Linked DNA regions of Homo sapiens: region 2 is linked to region 1. The links come from fine-mapping of genetic effects on gene expression. A gene starts in region 1. The other region holds a variant in brackets. All regions are shown on one strand. Distances are from middle to middle.

Region 1 (11,387 bases):
ACTTCAGAATATTTTGAACATTCCAAATTATGAGAGCATTTTAAACTCCAATTTGAGATATAAAATTTCAGTATAATAATTTAAGTTTACTAACCAAGGGAAGAGGATGCACTCTGGGGAGGGACCAGTATCAAAAGACAGCTCCATTTTTACTGTCTAAATGCCTAGGTAGGATGCCGGCTTTCCTACGTAGGCAACAGCTCTATCTCATGCTCTCAAACTGCAACAGTAGTTAGTCATGGAAGGAAGCTGAAGAATTTAAAGGTGTGGGAGGACAAAGACATTCAAGTGTTATGCAGCAGACAGGAAGGACGTCAAGTTGAAAGAAGTGAACTGTGAACCTAGGGTGCCTGGAAAACCCAACATGGATGTTTAAAGTTGCTAAGAGCAATAGTGGGACAAGAAGCTGATTCTAAAATTTAAGTGAAGAAAGAAGAGATATTATTTGGGGGGAAAAAGTTAGATATAACAATTTTAATTTTAGAAAATCTTTCAAATAAATTTTCATAAAACAAATGGCAGAAAGTGAAGCTTAACAAATCTAAGCATTCCAAGCAGTTAAGAACTTTCTCTTCTTTAAATAAGAAAATAAAAATTAAAGAAAACACTGTATTTCCTCCAATTGTGCCAGAATCTTGGAGACAGCTAGAAAATCTTACGCTAATCAAAAAAGATTGTGGTTTTTCAAAGGTGCATAAAGGGTAAAGAGAAATCCCAAGACTAAACTTGTTTAGAAAAGACTATTTTGGGCCGGGTGCAGTGGCTCAAGCCTGTAATCCCAGCACTTTGGGAGGCTGAGGCAGGTGGATCACCTGAGATCAGGAGTTCAAGACCAGCCTGGTCAACATGGCAAAACCCCGTCTCTACTAAAAACACACAAAAAAATTAGCTGGGCAGGGTGGCATGCACCTGTAATCCCAGCTACTCAGGAGGCTGAGGCAGGAGAATCGCTTGAACTGGGGGGGCAGAGGTTGTGGTGAGCTGAGATTGCACCACTGCACTCCAGCCTGGGCGACAGAACAAGACTCCATCTCAAAAAAAAAAACAAAACTATTTTGAAGGTAAATATAGAAGGCAGCTTTGAGAAGGGTGGTATGAGCTTTCAAGGAAAAGTGTTGAAAGATAATGATAAAACAAAGGTGTGGGATATTCAGAGGAGAGTTAGAAGATGTCAAACTCCACCGTAACATAGGTGGCAATAAAGAAAAAACAACCAGGACGTGGGGGTGAGGGGGAGATTAGAAATCCAGTTTTTAGCAACAGCTTCCATGTTACTGATGTGAATATAAATTCTAAGACTATGCAAACCTCTTCCACATTTATTATACAGAACATAAGGCAAATAAAATTGTGTTTACTACTTAATTGCTCCTATAATTTAAGAAGCATGTACACGCCTACTATGTACCCACAAAAATTAAAAATAAAAAAAATTTTAAGGCCAGGCACAGTGGCTCACGCCTGTAATCCTAGCACTTTGGGAGGCTGAGGCCAGCGGATCGCTTGAGGTAGGAGTTCAAGACCAGCCTGGCCAACATGGTGAAACCCCATCTCTACCAAAAATACAAAAATTAGCTGAGCTGGTGGTGAGTGCCTGTAATCCCAGCTACTCAGGAGGCTAAGGCAGGAGAATCACTTGAACCCGGGAGGTGGAGGTTGCAGTGAGCCGAGATCATGCCACTGCACTCTAGCCTGGGCGACAGAGTGAGACTCCTTCTCAAAAAAAAAAAAAATTTAATAAAATAAAATGAAATCAGAACAGGGATGACTACATTTGACAAAAAATAAGTCATAAGAAATCCAGTGTTATTAAGAAAAAATAAAAATTCTAATGTGCCATAACAAAAAAAAAAAATAAAATGCATCTAAAACACATCTGCAAAAGGCATTAAAATAGCTGAAACACAAAACAAAAAATGTTTTCAATGACTGTTTTCTCAATTCTCCCAAGGATAGTACATAACTAGTACTTAGGTATTACACAGATATTTTCTCAAAAATGTATGAAGTAAACCTATCACTTCATAGAAAACAACTTATAGTATTTTTTGCCAATGATAAAAATTTGAGCTTTCAAGCAAACATTAAATTGTTTTTGGGTTTTTTTTTTTTTTTTTTTTTTTGACACGGAGTCTCACTCTGTCACCAGGCTGGAGTGCAGTGGGGCAATCTCAGCTCACTGCAACCTCTGCCTCCCGGGTTCAAGCGATTCCCCTGCCTCAGCCTCCCAAGTAGCTGGGACTACATGCGCGTGCCACCATACCCAGCTAATTTTTTGTATTTTTAGTAGAGACAGGGTTTCACCATGTTGGCCAGGATGATCTCAATTGTCTGACCTCGTGATCCGCCGGCCTCGGCCTCCCAAAGTGCTGGGATTACATGCTTGAGGCACCGCTCCCCGCCATTAAATTGTTTTAAAACTTGTGCCTGCTACCATAAGCTTGACAAGTTCCTAATATGTAAAGATTTTTCTGATGAGATCAGTGTTGGTATTAATGTAATTTGTTTGATAGTATATAACAAAATGTATTAACATTTAGAAGATATACATTACTCAGTGAAGCAATATCTTCCAAACCGTCAATTTGTGATATGAAAATATCACACATGGGTAGATGATCCATTCAAAGTGTAGAATAGGCCAATGAGTTTTAAGGTAACAAAGTACAAAAAGGTCACTCCTAAGCTTTCAGATTCCACACTGCAATTAACCTTTTAATTTATTAATTAATCCTTCATACAATTCAACCAAAACAATATATCACAATAAACTGCAGAAACAGATATGAAAACCCACCTGTCTTCTATTTAGCCTTTTTTTTTTCTCTTTGGATACTCAATAATGTTTAAGTTAGGGGTTCTGAAAACCACTGCCTTAGGACCATTAGGAAACCTCACTAAGAAAGGTTCCAGGAGTCTTAGCAGGAAGACATTCACACACAGACAATAGCCAGGTTTAACTTTCTACAACTGGTTAAAAGGCTGGATTGTATCTCTACATTCTTACTTCTTATTAAGACATACTAAATATCACCTGAGTGATATCTGGGCACAACTCTCTTCTCTTCTTCACATTTTTTCCTCTCAATCTCCCTGCTCTAAGATCAATTTGCTTGCTAAATCACATCTATTATACTTCTTACATTCCCACATTCCAGCAGTAGTTTGAAGAAAATCCCACCTGTTTCTCAATTGGTCCAATTACATGGCTATGCACAACACTTCCCTGACTTCCCTCACCTTTCCATAGTAGGAGTCATGCAATCTTAAAATCACGAATTCAATTACAAAATTTGCCAGGCTTAGTCCCATGTCCGACAATGGCATATCTGAAATAAAGTCCTTTTACAAGCCAACTTAACTTTTTTTTTTTTTTTGAGACGGAGTTTCGCTCGTTGCCCAGGCTGGAGTGCAATGGCGTGATCTCGGCTCACCGCAAACTCCTCCTCCCGGATTCAAGCAATTCTCCCGCCTCAGCCTCCTGAGTAGCTGGGATTACGGGCATAAGCCACCACACCTGGCTAATTTTTGTATTTTTAGTAGAGATGGGGTTTCTCCATGTTGGTCAGGCTGGTCTCGAACTCCCAACCTCAGGTGATCCACCCACCTCAGCCTCCCAAAGTGCTGGGATTACAGGTGTGAGCCACCATGCCCAGCCACAAACTAGCTTTTCATAACATGATATTATTTGATAAGCACTCTCTCCCCTAATACTAACATGTTTGCATAAAAGTATTAAACCAAAGAAATATTATTCCACACACTATATTAGAATGCAGACTTAGCATATTAGTCTCTTTTTTTTTTGAGATGGAGTCTCACTCTATCACCCAGGTTGGAGTGCAGTGGTGCAATCTCGGCTCACTGCAACCTCCACCTCCCGGGTTCAGGCGATTCTCCCGCCTCAGCCTCCCCAGTAGCTGGGATTACAGGCGTGAGCTACTACACCCAGCTAATTTTTGTATTTTTAGTAGAGATGGGGTTTCACCACGTTGGCCAGGCTGGTCTCGAACTCCTGACCTCAGGTGATTGGCCTGCCTCGGCCTCCCAAAGTGCTGGGATTACAGGCGTAAACTGCCGCACCCAGCCACTAGTCTTTATTTTTTTTAAAAAGTGATACAAAACACAAAAGACTATTACAAAGAAATGTCCAATTTCAGTACAATATACTTTGGTTAAATAATTTATCATAATAGAGCTAAAAGCTAAGAAGCAAACCACTATGTCACTTTAACCTAGTATATCAAATATGTGCCCAAGTCTTTTAAAAGTAAGACTTCCCTGGCCGGGCGCGGTGGCTCACACCTGTAATCCCAGCACTTTTGGAGGCCGAGGAGGGTGGATCATGAGGTCAGGAGATCGAGACCAGCCTGGCCAATATGGTTAAACCCCGTCTCTACTGAAAATACAAAAATTAGCCAGGCATGGTGGCGGTCGCCTGTAGTCCCAGCTACTCAGGCGGCTGAGACAGGAGAATAGCTTAGCTTGTACCTGGGAGGCGGAGGTTGCAGTGAGCCGAAATCGTTCCACTGCACTCCAGCCTGGGTGACAGAGCGAGACTCCGTCTCAAAAAAAAAAAAAACAAAAAAGACTTTCCCTATGATAGTTTTTCAATATTCTAATTTTAAGCCCTTTTATTCATATCTAATTGAAAATGTACTTGCCAAGTAAATTTGAGTTCCTTCCAATTACATGTATTTGTTAGTTGCCAATTAAATTTGTCTCCTACTTTTCACTTCCAAAATCCTCAATGAATTGTCTTCTTATGATCTTGGACAATTAACCTCTCTGAATCCTGTTTTTCTCATCAGCAAAATAAGAGACTTGGACTAGAAAATCACAAGGTCCCATCTAACTCTAAAATTCTGTAAGTCAATTAAAAATAGCTGGACTCTGGCCGGGCGCAGTGGCTCATGCCTGTGATCCCAGCACTTTGGGAGGCCGAGGCGGGCGGATCACCTGAGGTCAGGAGTTCGAGACCAGCCTGGCCAACATGGTGAAACCCCGTCTCTACTAAAGATACAAAAATTAGCCGGGCATAGTAGCTCGCCCCTGTAATCCCAGCTACTCGGGAGGCTGAAGCAGGAGAATCGCTTGAACCAGGGAGGCGGAGGTTGCAGTGAGCCGAGATTGCGCCACTGCACTCCAGCCTGGGCGACAAAGCAAGACTCCGTCTCAGAAAAAAAAAAAATAGCTGGACTTCTGAAATGATGTTCATTCACTACCAGAGGAGAAAGAGAAGGAAAACTCAACATGCATTTATATTTAAATCTAAAACCTTTTTAAACCAAGTTAATTTGGCTAGTTATCCATGGCTTTGGACGGTAGAGGTTGAGGGAGTTCAAGTGAAAACGAGAATTCCACATCCCCACTTCAGTGATTGATGTAGATTTACTATGACCTTCCTCAGGCAGTACCTTTACCACCAAATCGGGAAACACTACCTACCGTAGAAAGAAAGCCCAGTGAGATAGGGCTGGTCCTGCTGGAAAACTGAACTCTTTGTAATCAAAACCCAAGGCATTATCTTTACCAAGCTCTTTTCCCCTTTAACCCCTTTAACTTCCAAGGCTGAATTACGGTGACGTAGTCAATTGGGTTCAAAGTCTAGGACACTCCATATCTGGCAAGGAATGAAACAGTAAGTCCAAGGGCCCAGAGGCGATGATGGACTTGGGTGGAGGTGGGTGGCCCAGGAGGTGGGGGTGGGTGCTGGGCGAGATGCTCGAACCACCGTTTTCCACATCTTTCCACCTAATCCAGGGGAGCTGGAGGAGGCCGGGCCCCCGGCCCCGGCAGAGCGAAGTGGGTGAGAGGGTGGCAAGCTCAGCACTCAACGCTCCCCGCGCCGGACCGGGCCTCAGCCTCCAGCACACCTCGCTGGCCCCGGGGCACCGAGAGGGCAGAGCCGGGACCACCCCAGGATCCCAGCCCCCAGCCCGCCGCCGCCAGCCCGCCCCCGCTCCCCGCTGCGCACCTGCGGTCCCCCAGGAGCGGAGACGAGGCGGCCCTTTCCTCACTGTCCCCCTGCAGGACCCGTCGCAGCCTCCGCTTTGCAAAATCTGTCCTCTCCGCCCAGCAGGAGCAGTCCGTGGCACCGCAATCAGGGGTGGCGCCACCCCGCCCCGGGCCTCAGCGAAGACCTCCGCCCGGCCAACATGGCTGGCGCCGCCTCTGCCACGTCAAGAGGAGGGGACGGGGCGTGAGGGCAGGAAGGGGGCAGGAAGGGGCGGGCGCAGAGTTACCAGGGCAGGCCACCGGACCCCTGAGCTTGCTTAATAACCGGAGGATTTGAGAAAGGCGCGCGGCGGGCGAAGGTACCGAGAGGGGAGGAGGGAGGAGAGGTAGCGGGGACCGAGCCAGAGGGGCGGAAGAACCCGGAAGACCCAGGCAGCCGGACGGCCGAGGGGCGTGGGACCGGGCAGAGCGGGACCGGGAGAGAGCGCCTTTCCCAGCTCCCTAAAGCCACAGCGTATCCCACTCCCTGCAGGTCGCAGAAAGAGTGGAGAACTGGTGCCACTCGGACACCTTAGCTCACCGAGAGAAATGGAGACGGCCTCCAGGACATCTTAGGACCCTGGTTGATTCCGAGAATCACAAATCACATCTCTGAAAAAAGTGAAAAGTTCATTCTTTCACTTAGTGCAACAAATGTTTACTGAAACTTACTATGTGCCAGACACAATTGAGATGCTGGTAATATGATGCAGGCAAAGTAGGCCCAGATCCCTGGCCCGAAAGAATTCACGTACTATTTATGTATTTTAGTCAGCCTGTCTTTTCCTCCTACATTGCCTCTGCCACTTCAACTCTGTCTCCCCCCACCCCCAAAACACACACACAGTACAATATTTGGCTGATTCATCTTGATATGTTCAATGTTTTTCTTTCCAAGAAAAAAGTTGAACAAAATGAGAAAGCAACAGATTGGTAAGACATTAGAGCTTGGTGGTCTCAGACAACCCCTTCCTTCAGTGAGGGGAATGAAATTAAGTGCCCATGGAATTAATTGCATATATGACAACGCCTAAAAGCCTGCAAAGTTTAGCCATATCAACATTTTATGGAATGGAAAAAAAGATCAAGTCCCTGTCCTTGAAAGCTCATATTCATGAGAAATAAGACAGCAGCACCAGGCTGGGCGCGGTGGCTCACGCCTGTAATCCCAACACTTTGGGAGGCGGAGGCAGGCGGATCACAAGGTAAGGAGTTCGAGACCAGCCTGGCCAACATAGTGAAACACCGTCTCTACTAAAAATACAAAAATTAGCCGGGTGTGGTGGCACGCTCCTGTAGTCCCAGCTACTCGGGAGGATGAGGCAGAAGAATTGCTTGAACCCGGGAGGCGGAGGTTGCAGTGAGCCGAGACCACGCCATTGCACTCCAGCCTGGGTGACAGAGTGAGACTGTCTCAAAAAAAAAAGCACCAAACATATTTCCCTTTCTATAATGTGTGTACTAAAGTTGTTTTGGAAGGTGGAAGAGGATGTTTGCTTGTCAAATTGTAATACAATCCTGAAGAGGGCAATGGGAATCGAAAGCCAAAAATTAGTGTAGGCTTCCAAATAAAGTAGGTTCAAGGTGCTACCTTAATGAAGATTCTTAACAGCACACAGCAGAGGTGTTGTTATAAAGGTGGAATAAGTACACCCACCAAAAGCGACAAGATCTAAGAATGAGTAGGATAAAAAGATCTTAGTCCATTTAGGCTGCTAACACAAATGCCCTCAACTGGGTAGCTCATAAACAACAGAAATTTATTTCTGACTGTCCTGGAGGCTGAGAAGTCCAGGATCAAGATGCCAGCAGATTTGGTGTCCGGTGAGGACCTGCTTTCTGATTCATAGATGGTGCCTTCTTTGTTCTCACATGGCAGAAGGGGCTGGCTAGCTCTCTGGGGTCTCTTTTACAAGGGTACTAATCCCATTCATGAGAGGCCAGCCCTCATGACCTGTTCACCTCCCAAAGGCCCTACCTCCCTATACCATCACCTTAGCAGTTAAGATTTCAACCTATGAGTTTGGTAGGACACAAATATTCAGACCATAGCAACATTGATGAGAAGATCCACAGAAATCCTGGAATCCAGCGAGGAATAAATCAAAGCATAGTACCTTTGGTAGATTCATTCATTTCATGGTTCCCAGAAAGGCATCTTTACCATCCAGCTCAATGAAGTCTTTTCAAAAACTCATCATTCCTGGCCAGGCACAGTGGCTCACGCCGGTAATCCCAGCACTTTGGGAGGCCGAGGTGGGCAGATCACGAGGTCAGGAGATCAAGACCATCCTGGCTAACATGGTGAAACCCTGTCTCTACTAAAAATACAAAAAATTAGCCAGACATAGTTGCGGGCGCCTGTAGAGCCAGCTACTCGGGAGGCTGAGGCAGGAGAAATGCGTGAACCCAGGAGGTGGAGCCTGCAGTGAGCAGAGATCGCCCCACTGCACTCCAGCCTGGGCGACAGACCGAGATTCCATCTCAAAAAAAAAACAAAAAAAAATTCATCATTCCTTTGTTTTCAGTTGATCAAAGGTTTTAATTCCCTATTACAATGAAATAGATGTTAGGATGCATAACAAACTCAGTTGCATCTGTCTTTATGTGCTTTAAGATGAATGACTTTAAGTCCAGGCGCAGCGGTTCACACCTGTAATCCCAGCACTTTGGGAGGCTGAGGCAGGTGGATCACAAGGTTAGGAGTTCAAGACCAGCCTGGCCAAGATGTTGACACCCCATTTCTACTAAAAATACAAAAATTAGCCAGGCGCAGTGGCAGGCGCCTGTAATCCCAGCTACTCAGGAGGCTGAGGCAGGAGAATCACTTGAATCCAGGAGGCAAAGGTTGCAGTGAGCCGAGATCACGCCACTGCACTCCAGCCTGGGCAACCGAGCGAGACTCCGTTTCAAAAAAAAAAAAAATGATGAATGGCTTTAATCCTTGGATATACTATCAGGATCAGGATCTACTGGACCCAACTTTAGCCTTTCAGGGTTGTTTTTTTGTTTTTGGGCTCTACTCTTAAGGATTGATATTTCATGATTTTTTGTTCCTTCGTAGAAGTCTTCCAAACAACAAAGAGAAAATTTATTTTCTAAAAAAATAGATGTGGTGACTCACACCTGTAATCCTAGCAGTTTGGGAAGCTGAAGGGGGAGGATCCCTTGAGCCCAGGAGTTCAAGACCACCCTGGAAAATATGGTGAAACCCCATCTGTACCAAAAATATAGAAAAATTAGCAGAGCGTGGTAGTGTGTGACTTTAATCCCAGCTACTCAGGAGGCTGAGGTGGGAGAGTAACCTCAACCCAGGGAGGTCAAGGCAGCAGTGAGCCGTGATGGTGCCATTACATGACTGTGCCACTGCCTGGGCGATAGAGTGAGATTCTGTCTCAAAAATAAAATACATAAAATTAAAAAATAGAATAAAACTCATTCTATTTACAATTCCCATATAGATCCATTGGACCCTTATACATCTAGGACACATAGTGGGATTTACTAATTTTTTTTTTTGTATGTTGAAACGTTCTGCTACTTCATCATCCATAGAATTATTTCATCCTTACTGATCAATTATTCCAAGCTATGCTTTAAAAAAGATGAAAGTCAGGCTGGCGCAGTGGCTCACGCCTATAATTCCAGGGATGTCACCGTGTTGGCCAGGCTAGTCTTGAATTCCTGGCCTCAAGTGATCCGACCACCTCAGCCTCCCAAAGTGCTGGGATTACAAGCGTGAGCCACCGCACCTGGCCCTTTTTTTCTTTTTTTTTTTTTAGACGGAGTCTTGCTCTGTCCCCCAGGCTGGAGTGCAGTGGCACGATCTCGGCTCGCTGCAAGCTCCGCCTCCCGGGTTCACGCCATTCTCCTGCCTCAGCCTCCCGAGTAGCTGGGACTACAGGCGCCCGCCACCACGCTTGGCTAATTTTTTTGTATTTTTAGTACAGGCGGGGTTTCACCGAGTTAGCCAGGATGGTCTCCATCTCCTGACCTCGTGATCCGCCCTCCTCGGCCTCCCAAAGTGCTGGGATTGCAGGCGTGGGCTTTTTTTGCTTTTTTAAATAGGGATGGGGTCTTGCTATGCTGCCTAGGTTGGAATTGAACTCCTGGACTCAAGGGATCCTCCCACCTTGGCCTTTCAAAGTGTTGGGATTATAGGTATGAACTACCACACCTATAATTTTTTCCAGTATGCTGGTTACGAGGTTTCAACCTGAGGAAGAGTAGAAAGGGAATGGAATTTTTTTTAACTCCTGTGAAAGGAAGGTCAGAACATCTAAGAGATTGTAAAAAATATAAAATCTCATATAAGCTCCCTTCAAAAGAAAGTCTTTTAAAAGCAAATACTCCTAAGTTCACTATTTCCTCAAACTGGCATTTCTTAAAATGCCAGAGACTAAAAAGAGAGGGAAAGATTATGTGGTCGAATAAAGACATGTATAGCCAAGAACATTTCTTAAAGATATTTGACCTTGCAACTTTTTTCCCAGGGATTATCTTGAGTCAAGTATTCTAAACACCCTATGAAAGACTTTGCCTTCCACCATTAAATATTAGTTAATACGTAACAGCCAGTAATCTTCCTACTTCAGAACCCACAGGTATTTCTAAACTGAGGTTCCAGTACTACAGTCAGTGAAGTATAATGTCAATTTCTTGGAACTGTAGATGTTAACCACCAGATGGAGCTTTCACCTCTACTTTTCCTTTTTAGGTTTACTCTGTTTTCTAGTATTGATGAAGCACTTGTAGTTTTTTCTAACATGGATTCTCTTCCATTTGTTCAGATAGTGACAGGTTAAGGCACTGGCCAACTATTTTTGGAGTAGTCACTTGAAAAAGCAATATTCAGATTCTTATAATTTTGAATTTTCAGCACCAGTAGTGTGTTAAAGTTATATTCACGGAATAACATCTGTCTGATCCTCTATTCTGCACTCATAATGACTACAATTGTATTAAATATAATAAGGCTAATTAATAAGTCACATGGAAATTACAGAATAGTAAACTCAAGCCTTTGTGATCATTTAGTCTAATCCCCATACATGACAAATGAATGTGAGGACAAGAGAAGTGGCACACTTAACAACACCCTAGGCCAGGGTGCTGATGCTCATTTAAAACCTACAACACTGGCTTTGCAGACACCACTGCCGGAGCCCTGTACTATCAACCATGGTGAACCCCACCGTGTTCTTCAACATCGTGGTTGACGGCGAGCCCTTGGGCCGTGTCTCCTTCAAGCAGTTTGCAGAAAAGTTTCCAAAGACAGCAGAAAACTCATGCTCTGACCACTGGAGAGAAAGGATTGGATTATAAGTGTTCCCTTCTTTCACAGAATTATTCCAGGGTTTATGTGTCAGGGTGGTGACTTCACATGCCAT
Region 2 (11,387 bases), 900 kb before region 1:
TTAATACTTTTAGAGGCCCTCAAAATCACAAAGTATGCTCAACTCACTCTCTACAGTTCTCATAACTTCCAAAATCTATCTTCTTCCTCATACCTGACGCATATACTTTCTGCTTCCCGGCTCCTTCAGCTATACTCACTCTTTATTGAGTCTCCCACAATTACCGTTGTTCCTGGCCTGGACTTCAATCCGGCCTCCCACATTATTCCTGATACCACACCTGACCCCCATGACTGTATCTCTCTGATCCACCTGACATTCACACCATTTCCCCAAATTTCCTTCTTTCCTGTTCCTCACCCTGATCACGCTGGATTTATTGATGGCCTAATCGCCACAAACCAGCAAAGGCAGGTTATGCTATAGTACAAGCCACTAGCCCGCCTCTTAGAACCTCTCATTTCCTTTCCATCGTGGAATTCTATCCTCAAGGAAATAACTTCTCAGTGTTCCATCTGCTATTCTACTCCTCAGGGATTATTCAGGCCCCCTCCCTTCCCTACACATCAAGCTTGAGGATTTGCCCCACCCAGGACTGGCAAATTAGCTTTACTCAACATGCCCTGAGTCAGATAACTAAAATACCTCTTAGTCTAGGTAGATACTTTCACTGGATAGGTAGAGGCCTTTCCTACAGGGTCTGAGAAGGCCACCGCAGTCATTTCTTCCCTTCTGTCAGACATAATTCCTCAGTTTAGCCTTCCCACCTCAATACAGTCTGATAACAGACGAGCCTTTATTAGTCAAATGAGCCAAGCAGTTTTTCAGGCTCTTGGTATTCAGTGAAACCTTTATATCCCTTACGGTCCTCCGTCTTCAAGAAAAGTAGAATGGACTAAAGGTCTTTTAAAAACACACCTCACCAAGCTCAGCCACCAACTTAAAAAGGACTGGACAATACTTTTACCACTTTCCCTTCTCAGAATCCAGGCCTGTCCTCGGAATGCTACAGGGTACAGCCCATTTAAGCTCCTGTATAGACACTCCTTTTTATTAGGCCCCAGTCTCATTCCAGACACCAGACCAACTTAGACTGTGCCCCCAAAAAACTTGTCATCCCTGCTATCTTCTGTCTAGTCATACTCCTATTCACCGTTCTCAACTACTCATACATGCCCTGCTCTTGTTTACACTGCCGGTTTACACTGTTTTTCCAAGCCATCACAGCTGATATCTCCTGGTGTTATCCCCAAACTGCCACTCTTAACTCTTGAAATAAATAAATAATCTTTGCTGGCAGGACTATGCCGAATCTCCTTAGGCACTCTCTAATCAGATATCCTGAGTCGTCCCAATTCTTAGACCTTTTATACCTGTTTTTCTCCTTCTGTTATTCCATTTAGTTTCCCAATTCATCCAAAACCGTATCCAGGCCATCACCAATCATTCTATATGACAAATGTTTCTTATAACATCCCCACAATATCACCCCTTACCACAATACCTCCCTTCACCTTAATCTCTCCCACTCTAGGTTCCCACGCCGCCCCTAATCCCGCTTGAAGCAGCCCTGAGAAACATCGCCCATTCTCTCTCCATACCACCCCCCCAAAAATTTTTGCCGCCCCAACACTTCAATGCTATTTTGTTTTATTTTTCTTATTAATATAAGAAGGCAGGAATGTCAGGCCTCTGAGCCCAAGCCAAGCCATCGCATCCCCTGTGACTTGCACGTATACGTCCAGATGGCCTGAAGTAATTGAAGAATCACAAAAGAAGTGAATATGCCCTGCCCCACCTTAACTGATGACATTCCACCACAAAAGAAGTGTAAATGGCTGGTCCTTGCCTTAAGTGATGACATTACCTTGTGAAAGTCCTTTTCCTGGCTCATCCTGGCTCAAAAAGCACCCCCACTGAGCACCTTGCGACCGCCACTCCTGCCCGCCAGAGAACAAACCCCCATTGACTATAATTTTCCTTTACCTACCCAAATCCTATAAAATGGCCCCACCCTTATCTCCCTTCGCTGACTCTCTTTTCGGACTCAGCCTGCCTGCACCCAGGTGATTAACAGCTTTATTGCTCACACAAAGCCTGTTTGGTGGTCTCTTCACACGGACGCGCATTAAAAAAACATCCTTACATAATATGTTAAAGGATGCTATACAATATGGGGAAAATGATATAAGTATATGACCCAAGAGGATGAAAAAATTCACTTATTGGCAGAAAGGACAACATCATTTGTATGTAGAAAATCACCTCTCAAAATAGTAAGTTGCTGAAAGGGGAGTGGTTGCGCTAGAATCAGCACCAATGACTCTTTTATCCTATTTCTCAGTTTTAGGGGAAAAGACTCTACAAAACTACAGGTGTTTTGCTGACAGTAGAAAAAAACCTTCCCTTGTTAACATGTTAGTCAAGCTTTGGAAAAGACATCACATGTCAAATCCTATCACAGGATGCTTTATAGAGATTATCTATTTTAAATTTTATTGGAATTTCGATGACATCAAGTTGTTATTGCTTGGACCACAGTGGTGGTGGTTATCTGAAGATTTCTGCAAAAGTGCCATGCCTCCTCAAATAAGGCAAGTCATCTAAAAAATATCCCTTATATATATTTTTCATTTCTTTCATCATGTTACAGAGAATTTCAGTGGTATTCTAAGACTCAGCCTCCCCAAGGAACCAAATCAAGCTTTTATGCATCAGTGGAAACCAGAAATTACTAACAGTATACACAGTGGCAATGGCCAGAGATTACTCTTTCATCTGGTTCAACCCCTAGAGACACAAGGTCTCATCCTGTTCACACCCAAATCCCCCTCCTTCCCCAAACACACAGCCTCCACATGCATTCTCTGACAAGCCTGAGTAATATTTCATCAGTTCTCCCTAGCCACTCAGTCCAGGTTTTAATATAGCTGGAATATCTTGGGTAGCTTTATCAAGATGTAAACCTTATAATCAAGGCTTAGTTCAAAATTTAAGTTTTTCCAGCTGTCAACTGACATACAACTGTATAAAATCTGAAACTTTCCCTATCAAAGTTCTCAATGTTAAAATCTCCCCCTAGTGGATTTTCAGAGCATGTGTTTTCACAAGTAAAACTGAATAGAATTTTCAAAAAAAAAAAAAAAATGCTAAAAATTTCATATGTGTGAAAAATAAGACCTATTAATCTCAAAGTTCAGAGGGGAAAAAATGCAATTTCATTTAAAAGCTTGCCATCAAAAAAATTCTAAAACTAAAGTAGAATAGTTTTGGTTTACTCTAGTCTTATGTGCAAGTGTGAATATTGAGTTTTACAAGTTTTTCTTGTGTGTCATTATCCTCTATTAAGTTAAGGCATTTTAATGGACTAAACATGGTAATTTCTTACTTAATTGTTTAGTGAAGAGAGGCATAATGTTTCAATTAGGAAAGAATGATCCCCCACATGAGTGAATCTGCCATCTGTGTATTCTCATCTGTTAAAACTGTTAGTCAAATCAACAAAAGTCCAAGTGCAAAGTCCCTAAACCAGTTGAAATGGGCACACACTTGCTCTAGGGAAGGGGAAATTTTATTTTAATTGATTTTGTTCCAGCAGCAATCCCTCTTCCTTTCCTGGGAATACATTTTGGCTGGGATTTTGTGGCATCAATACAAATCACTTCAAAGCAGCTATTGCTCATTTATCCTCTACCTAGCGGCTCTGCTGACCCACCACTTGGATATCCATTTTCCTGAGGTGGGGCAAAGATGAGGCATGACAAGACCACAGGAATGGTGTAGGAAAAAACTACAGAGAAATACTCATACAGAAGACAGCACAAAGCTGCCTGCAGTACTGATCGTCACATGTTTAGAACTGGGAAATGGTGGTCAGTTGTTAACAGAAAATGCATTTTCTTTGGTACCAAAATACCAATGGCTCATCAATCTTAATACTTTTATAATAACATTTTTTAAGGTTAAATTCTTTCAAAACATGTCACTCCAAATTTCTGATGAGGTCTAGTTACTTTTAAATAATTAGGCAACATGAATAGAGGAGAAGACTGAGGCAATTATTGGATTCATTGAGGAATGCATAAAACATAAAAATGACTTAAATTTGCTATTTATGTAATTTCGTGGTCTCAAAACCACACTTTAATTGAATCGAGTTTAGTAAGAGATAAGACCACAGCAGTGTGGCATGATGTTTAAGAACACAGGCCTTAGGGTAGATTGTTAGAGTCAAATTCGAGCTCTGACTGTGTGACTTTGAGCCAGTTATTTAACCTCTCTGTGCCTTGGTTTCTTCATCTGCAAAATGAGAGTAGTAAATAGAAGCTTCCTCATAGTGTAGTTGGAAGGGTTAAATATGCTGAAACCGTAAATGGAAAGTACTTAGTACACACAGATCCCACAGCTTTTTTTGTTCACTTTCAGACATTAACAGTCTTATTTTCAGACATTATTTTAAAAATCCTTTTTAAATTGAAACTTTCATTTCTCATTGAACTTAAATCTCTTTGTCCCTATACCAGCTCCAGCATGACCTATGCTTGGATCCTGTAGTAGGGAAGAGGGAAGCGGTTAATTCTTTATCATGTCTTTGCAGTATTTTTTTACTCTACCTCCCTCACCCCTTTCTCTGTCTTTGGTTCCTGCAGGGGAGAGGGAAAATCATTTGGGGACAGCCAACTTCTTCCTTGAGCGGTGCAGTTATAATCATGCATTGTGCCCTCTGTGAGTGCTTCTTTCTCCTTTGAAATTCTTCAGTGGGTTCTTCAGCATCGCCCACTCTGTTGCTGGAGACCACCCATTGTGCCCTTGGATGGCGTGCCCAATATCCTTGGCCAGCTGGCTGCATTCCCCACTCAGCTACTGATTGTTGATTGTTGTGCTTCACGAACTTCCCGCTGAGCGTCCTCTCATCCTGGGGTGGAGAGCAGGCCCATCACGGGGCTCCCACCTGCCTGCCTGCCATACTGTCCATGCCAGTGCCTGAGAAACACCGCCTCTGCTCCACTTTCAGTGGGAACCAGCGTTTTGCACCCCCCTCCATAGCCTTTTCTCTTCACTCTACCACCTGAAGCAATTCCCACTGGGCCGCTT[C/G]TTCACCTTTAAGTTTTCCAGGTAAGAATCAGACATCAGTCTCTGTGTCTTGTCAAATGTTCAGGGATACTACCAAGCTCTTTAAGTGGTCTTATAGAAGCCTCCACAGTTTACAGATGGGGTAAGCACCCACTTTCCATCTTTTGTGGGAAGAAAAATGCACAGCACTCTGAGAACTGTCTCTAAGGAATTAATCACTATCAACTTCCTTTCTACTCTCATATATGGAGGTAGGCAATGGGCTAAGGGGGTGGACTAGCACCTCTCTTTAGAAAGTGGATACATTTCCCAATTGCAGTCATCAGGTTGGGAGCCTGGGGCCTCACTGGAAATTGAGACAAAATAAAAGTTAAGTTCAACTTAGACTGTGCATATGTAACATTCAAACATTTGGGTTATTTGAGTCAGTGAGTTCAGTGATTAGTATGAATCCTTACCATGTGGTAGACTAGATTGACTTCAGTATGACGTAGATAGGTGTGATTAATAACTTAGAGTTATTTTAGCTGAGGGTGTGTCATGTACCAAAAACTGGTGAATGGAACATAGTTCACAGTGTTGGAATTATGGGACTCAACTGGATAGGCAGGAGGAAAAAGAAAGGGTAAGTATCATACACATAGAAACTGTCAGTATTTTTTAGACTGCAGAAGTGAATGTCAGACCTACTGTATTAAGCTCTTAAGCAAGGGACAAAACTGGATTTTTCAAGTCTGGGGCTAATTCAAAAACAGTGTTACATTGTAACCCATACCTCAGAAATTATTTTATAATAGCTAAATATTTACATAGTGCTTACTATATGCCAGACACTGTTTTAAACACTTTTAATGTATTTAATCCTTTTAACAATTTTACAAGATAGATGCACTGTTACTTCCTTTTACAAATGAGGAAAATGAAGCACAGAGGGATCAAACAACCAGCACAAGGTTAAAGTCATGGAAAATATGAGATGTAAGCCCTGATGTTTGGTATTAGACTACACTTTGCTTTCACAAACATTATCTTGTGATTTATGTCACAAATAAATCACATTATATAGCAATGATAAAGCAATTCCAAAAGATAGGCATATCAGACTCAAGCATACTCAATGAATCACTTAGCTATGGGATGATAGGGGCTGCCTAGAAAATAATAGACTGTTGTAGCTCCTGTTCCAGTTCCTTCTACCACCTTCTGACGGGTATGTTTTGTTTGCCATTTAACTTACATCACAACATGTTAATTTCAAGAATAAATTTATTAGTGTTTTTCTAAAAGTAAAAATAATTGAGGAGAAAATAAATCAGCAAATGTTATATTAAATAGAACAGACACTTACGGCCTGGAGTCTTTTCATTTTTAAGGTATAAAAAGCTTTTATTGCTTTTATCTTACTTAAAAAGCAATGCGTGCTTATGACTGAAGAATTAGAAAATCTCTGCAAAAGGGAGAAGAAAGCATTCACAACCCAACTACCTGATGATAACCACTGTTAATATCTTAGTAACTGTCCTTTCAAGCCTATGCATATATATGTTCATTTAATGTGTGTGTGTGTATTTACATCATTATTTATATAACATTTTTATTTTTGACTGGGGGAAGAGCAAAATTTTATTTTGGAATGAAAAAGGCCAACGGGGTAGTCAGAAAAGAATAAAGTGAGTGGTGTGGCATCCTCTCTCCATCTTCTTGGTGGCTTGGGTTATACATCTGTGCTTCAAGTTCTTCCAAAGGCCCAACTGTTTTGTTTGGTGTGCATGTTTGCTTACCTTGAAAGTTATCAATCAAGCTCAGAGTCCGTTAAATAAAATATAGCCTATCATCTATCTTCATTATGACCTGGAAAGACAGAGTCCAATTTAGACTCCTAGCCCTCTTCACAAGCTCTACCCTGGAACTTGCCCCCACCAGTAGCCTGTCCTACTTCAACTTCCATTCCTGGCTTTGTCCTGCCCAGTGAATAGGCTCATGTACATTAGGACAGATACCTGAACCCCTATGGCCAAGCTCATTACTCATCTGCCACATCCTCTCCTAGTCACCTCTGAGCCTCTTCTTGGCCATGTATTTGGCTCACACTTCCCTGGAAGTGGGTTTGGAGCCTCTGGGCAGGGAGTCATGGAGTCTAGAAGATTGTGATCTAGCGTATGGGCTAGATGTGGCTTGCGGGCTCAGACTGGGCACTTGTTGGCTGCAGGAACTCCTTCCCTTGCCGGGAAGGATGTGGCTAGAAGCGGGAAAGAACAGGATCTTCATGTATTCTCTATATGAGGTGCTGATCAAAATAAATAATTATTTACACCTAGAGATGTTCTCTAAATTATGACTGTAGAAAGTAGGTAAGTAAGTTAAAATTGGGAATGTGTAGCTTTAGCATGCCAACACCTACATCTGCAGAATCCCCATGGTTTATGTGCGCTGTTGCCTTTGACTGGAACAACCTTCATCAGACATGTGCCCTTTTACTTTCACCTTATTCATAACTGCTCAAACATCTTCTTTCCTTCCCTTTCCATCTAATCTATACCAAGTGCACCCACCCCTCCAGCACTCTGTATCCTCTCACCCCCACTTATCTTCTTAGAACTTATCACGAAATGAAATTACAGTACCTGTACTTGTTTACTGTCTTTCTGCCCTACTAGAATTCCACAGAAAATTAATCTAATTTGTCATTATATCTATTGTGCCTAGAACAGTGCCTGCCACCCAGTGGGCATTCCCTAAGTATTTGCTAAATTACTAAGTTACAATTAAAAACACACATTACTCATACATAGTGGAATTCTGATATTAATTTCCACTTCCTTTTAACTAAGAAATGGGGCAAATAACTGGAAATAAATCTTTTCTACTGCAGTCTGAATTTTACTTCCATAAAATAAAACACATACAAATAATTTTTTAAAATTAGGATATAATATCAGAAACCACTGCATTGGCTAATGGCATAAGCAGCGAAATCTTGGCTCAACCAAACAGTCAACAAAGAAGGAGTGTAGGCCAGGTGTCCCCACCTAGGCTATGCTATCTTCTTACTTCCTTCTTCTGGCAGGAAAGGAGATGTCAGGCTGTAGGAAAGTAGTAGCACGGGCTACTTCCTCAAGGACTAAGTAAAGTAGCATTCCATGCTGTGGGCAAAAGGAGACAGGGGCAGGGCCAGGTGCTGGTGAGGAGAGGCAGTCCACTCTCAAGAGGGGACAGTGAGGTGAGGATCCAGGACCTCTTTCCGGACCACTCCTGGTAGTTCTGAGTTCCAGTCTGACAGCTCACAGACACAGCCCCCCATTTTGCCTCCAGCAGGAGAAGACAAGGAGATGGAGAGACTGTCAACCTAGAACCAGTAATGACCAGTTCCAACTTAATTACAGAAAGGGAGAAAAGATCAATCATTTAAGTTGCTTCATCGTCTAAATAAAAGTGTTTTGGCTGTTGAAACATGAACCTAGACTCCTGCCTCAACATATTTAAAATGAGAACAAAGTGGCAGTATCATGGTGGTGGGCGTTTAGATGCTTACATTGTTTTCATCTACAAAACAGGCTTTCCTTTCACACCCTAGCTCTTTGCTGGGCTGGTGGAGCTGATTGACAGATATAGCCCGCTCCAAAGGAACAGCCCTTTCTCAAGGAATGAATGATTTGCTCTAAGTATTTAAATCCTCTGCTCAAAATCAAACATAAATTGAAGTATCAAAATAAACAAAAATATGGTTTGTGGTTTTGAAAGCATTTCTTTGTGATTTTTGCTAAAAAGAGAAATGCCAAAAAAATTTTTTTAAAGATTTTGAGACAATTATCTGGCGCAGTGGCTCACGCCTGTAATCCCAGCACTTTGGGAGGCTGAGGCAGGCAGATCATGAGGTCAGGAGATCAAGACCATCCTGGCCAACATGTTGAAACCCCATCTCTACTAAAAATATAAAAATTAGCTGGGCATGATGGGCGCCTGTAATCCCAGCTACTCAGGAGGCAGAGGCAAGATAATCACTTGAATCCAGGAGGTGGGGGTTGCAATGAGCCAAGATCATGCCACTGCACTCCAACCTGGGCAACAGAGTAAGATTCGTTCTCAAAAAAAAAAAAAAAAAAAGAAAAGAAAAAAGATTTCGAGACAATAGTTTTAAACTAATGCATCCATCTTAAAATCCTTAACTAACAGACTTTATTACAGAAAAATGTATTACTGATAAGGACTATTCAAAATAATACAGATAACATGAATGTGCTCCTGTTCTGCTTTTATGTTTCCATTATTTGTAATGAATACTTTCCTGTATGTGCTGAATTCTTGTTTTTAGAAATATTATTTTGTAGTAGAGAAAACATAGGGAAGAATAGGAGTTGTTACACCATATGGGTCTTTGCTAAAAGCACAAAAAAAGACTCTGTCATGCTGTTCACAGAAGAGGCAATAGGAAAATCAGTGGGCCAGGGTGAGTTTGCTGAGGTTGGTGATGAACTAAACCACAGGCTACCAAGGCTGCTGTGATTGGGTATTCCTGAGAAATGAAGTCCAGGATTGTTTCTTAGCCCTATAGCCACATTTGTGCTCTGGTAACTTTCTCGTTAGACTGACATCATGTTAACTGCTTAGTGGCAGATGGTCCTTAAGTGACACAACCTTTGCTGTAGGCCATATTGCTGAGTGGTGTTAGCCCCTTATACTCAATTTGGTCCCATCTGTCCAGACAGGTGTTTGTAAACCTGACACTGATTCTGCTGCTGCAGACAATGTTCCAGGAAGTGTACCCTTTAATCCCTGGCTCCAGCCAGCCCTTTATCATTGGTATGAATTAGAGATGCTCATTTAAGGATCAACACAGGCTCTGATTGGAAAAACCACATTAGTAATGATTTTGACATAAGCAGAAGTTGAGGTGCTGATAATTACTATTCCACCAAACGAACTGAGGCTCAAAACTGCTATTAAAAGGAAATGATCTTCCATGTATGATGACTTTCACACTGCATGACACTATTAAATAACCATCATTAGCTACTAATGCATGTACTACCCATTTTCCAGAGCCCTTTCTCTGCTGAGAAATTTAAGACCAAGAATGATCAATGAATGAGTCATCAGTATGACAATTGTTGATATAGGACATGCAAATTGAAATTATTTAGAATAATTTAAGTGTATAAGGAATTAATACACATGATGATATTCCTCAGCTAGTAAAGCTCTACTTATAAGGAGCTCACAGTTTATTTCTTTGCATCTACATTTTATAATCTAGAAAAGAGGAAAGTACTATCCATGGGATGCCTTGACAAAATAAAACAAGGTGATTTGGGGCAATTTTGTAGGTACTGCACTAGATGCTGGGGATAGAAAAATAAATAAAATGCAAGCCCCTGGTCTCCACAAGCTTACAAATTTATAAGAGGGTACAGACAAGTACACAAAAAGCCACAGTACAGTGTGATAAATATAATAATCAAAGTGTGCACCTGGTACATGATAGCACAGGAGAGTATAGCTTGTAGGAGAAAGTTACAGTGAGGGAAGAAAATCAGTCTGCTCAAGAATCTGCAACTTCCTAAATTGGAACATTTCATTTTCCCCTTTCTGGAAAACATCTCCTTCTTTTCTATCTATAAATGTTCATATCACAGAGGCATAGGAAAGATGGTAACCAAAGAGGGCTGGAGGACAGGTAACTTGTAGGGAGAAAACAAGCTCTTCCTAATCTTTTCAAGGTTTTAGACATGTGAACCTAAAAAGTTTTTAACAAGACAAGAAGATTGTTGAGTCCTGACTATTCACTGGCTGCGTTTTTTGCAAATTAAAGTGATCTCATGCCCATATCAGTTTTCCTTTTTCTTTGGAAATATTTACATTAAATTGAGATCTGAGGGGAAGATAGCGCTCTAACTGGGATCCTGCTTTTAATATAATTTGAAAATAGCTGCAACCCCAATCCACCTTCCTGGTGGCCCAGAAATGCCACCCTTTTTGTTTGTTTGTTTGTTTTTGTTGTTCATAGATTAGTTCACAAATACAATAATTAGAAATACATGACTGGGCTGAGCACGGTGGCTCACACGGGTAATACCAGCACTTTGTGAGGCTGAGACAGGAAAATTGCTTGAGCTAGGAATTCCACACCAGTCTGTGCAAGATAGGAAGACCCCATCTCTACAAAAACCTTAAAAATTAGCCAGGCATCGTGGGGCACACCTGTAGTCCCCAGCTACTCCAGAGGCTAAGGTGGGAGGATCACTTGAGCCTGAGACATCAAGGCTACAGTGAGCTGTGATTGTGCCACTACACTCCAGCCTGGGTGATAGAGCAAAACCCTGTCTCAAAATAATAATAATAATAATAATAATAATAATAATAATAATAATTTAAAA

Alleles and levels. Alleles are on the strand shown, and positions count from the first base shown. SD is a standard deviation of normalised expression in the study named.
For the expression in monocytes after LPS of the gene that starts at base 6,181 in region 1, G is the high allele of the variant in region 2 and C is the other (large effect, 1.1 SD a copy in Quach 2016).

What was found. PIP is the estimated chance that this variant, and not a neighbour inherited with it, causes the effect.
Region 2: its variant is fine-mapped to the expression of SEC23A in monocytes after LPS (Quach 2016, PIP 0.95).

The regions. Positions count from the first base shown.
Region 1 is chr14:39,097,055-39,108,441 of GRCh38, forward strand. It overlaps SEC23A (SEC23 homolog A, COPII component), which reads right to left and starts at 6,181. Exons shown (of 20, transcript NM_006364.4): 1 at 5,978-6,181. It overlaps SEC23A-AS1 (SEC23A antisense RNA 1), which reads left to right and starts at 6,086. Exons shown (of 2, transcript NR_146545.1): 1 at 6,086-6,317; 2 at 6,491-6,758. It also overlaps the pseudogene PPIAP4. RefSeq lists silencers at 5,787-5,866, 5,887-6,006, 6,167-6,396.
Region 2 is chr14:38,194,457-38,205,843 of GRCh38, forward strand. No RefSeq gene overlaps it. Among named protein-coding and RNA genes, the nearest start is that of SSTR1, 7.8 kb to the right of the region's middle. RefSeq lists enhancers at 1,208-2,196, 4,371-4,871, 4,872-5,372 and a silencer at 8,848-9,142. The variant C/G (reference allele first, on the strand shown) is at 5,035.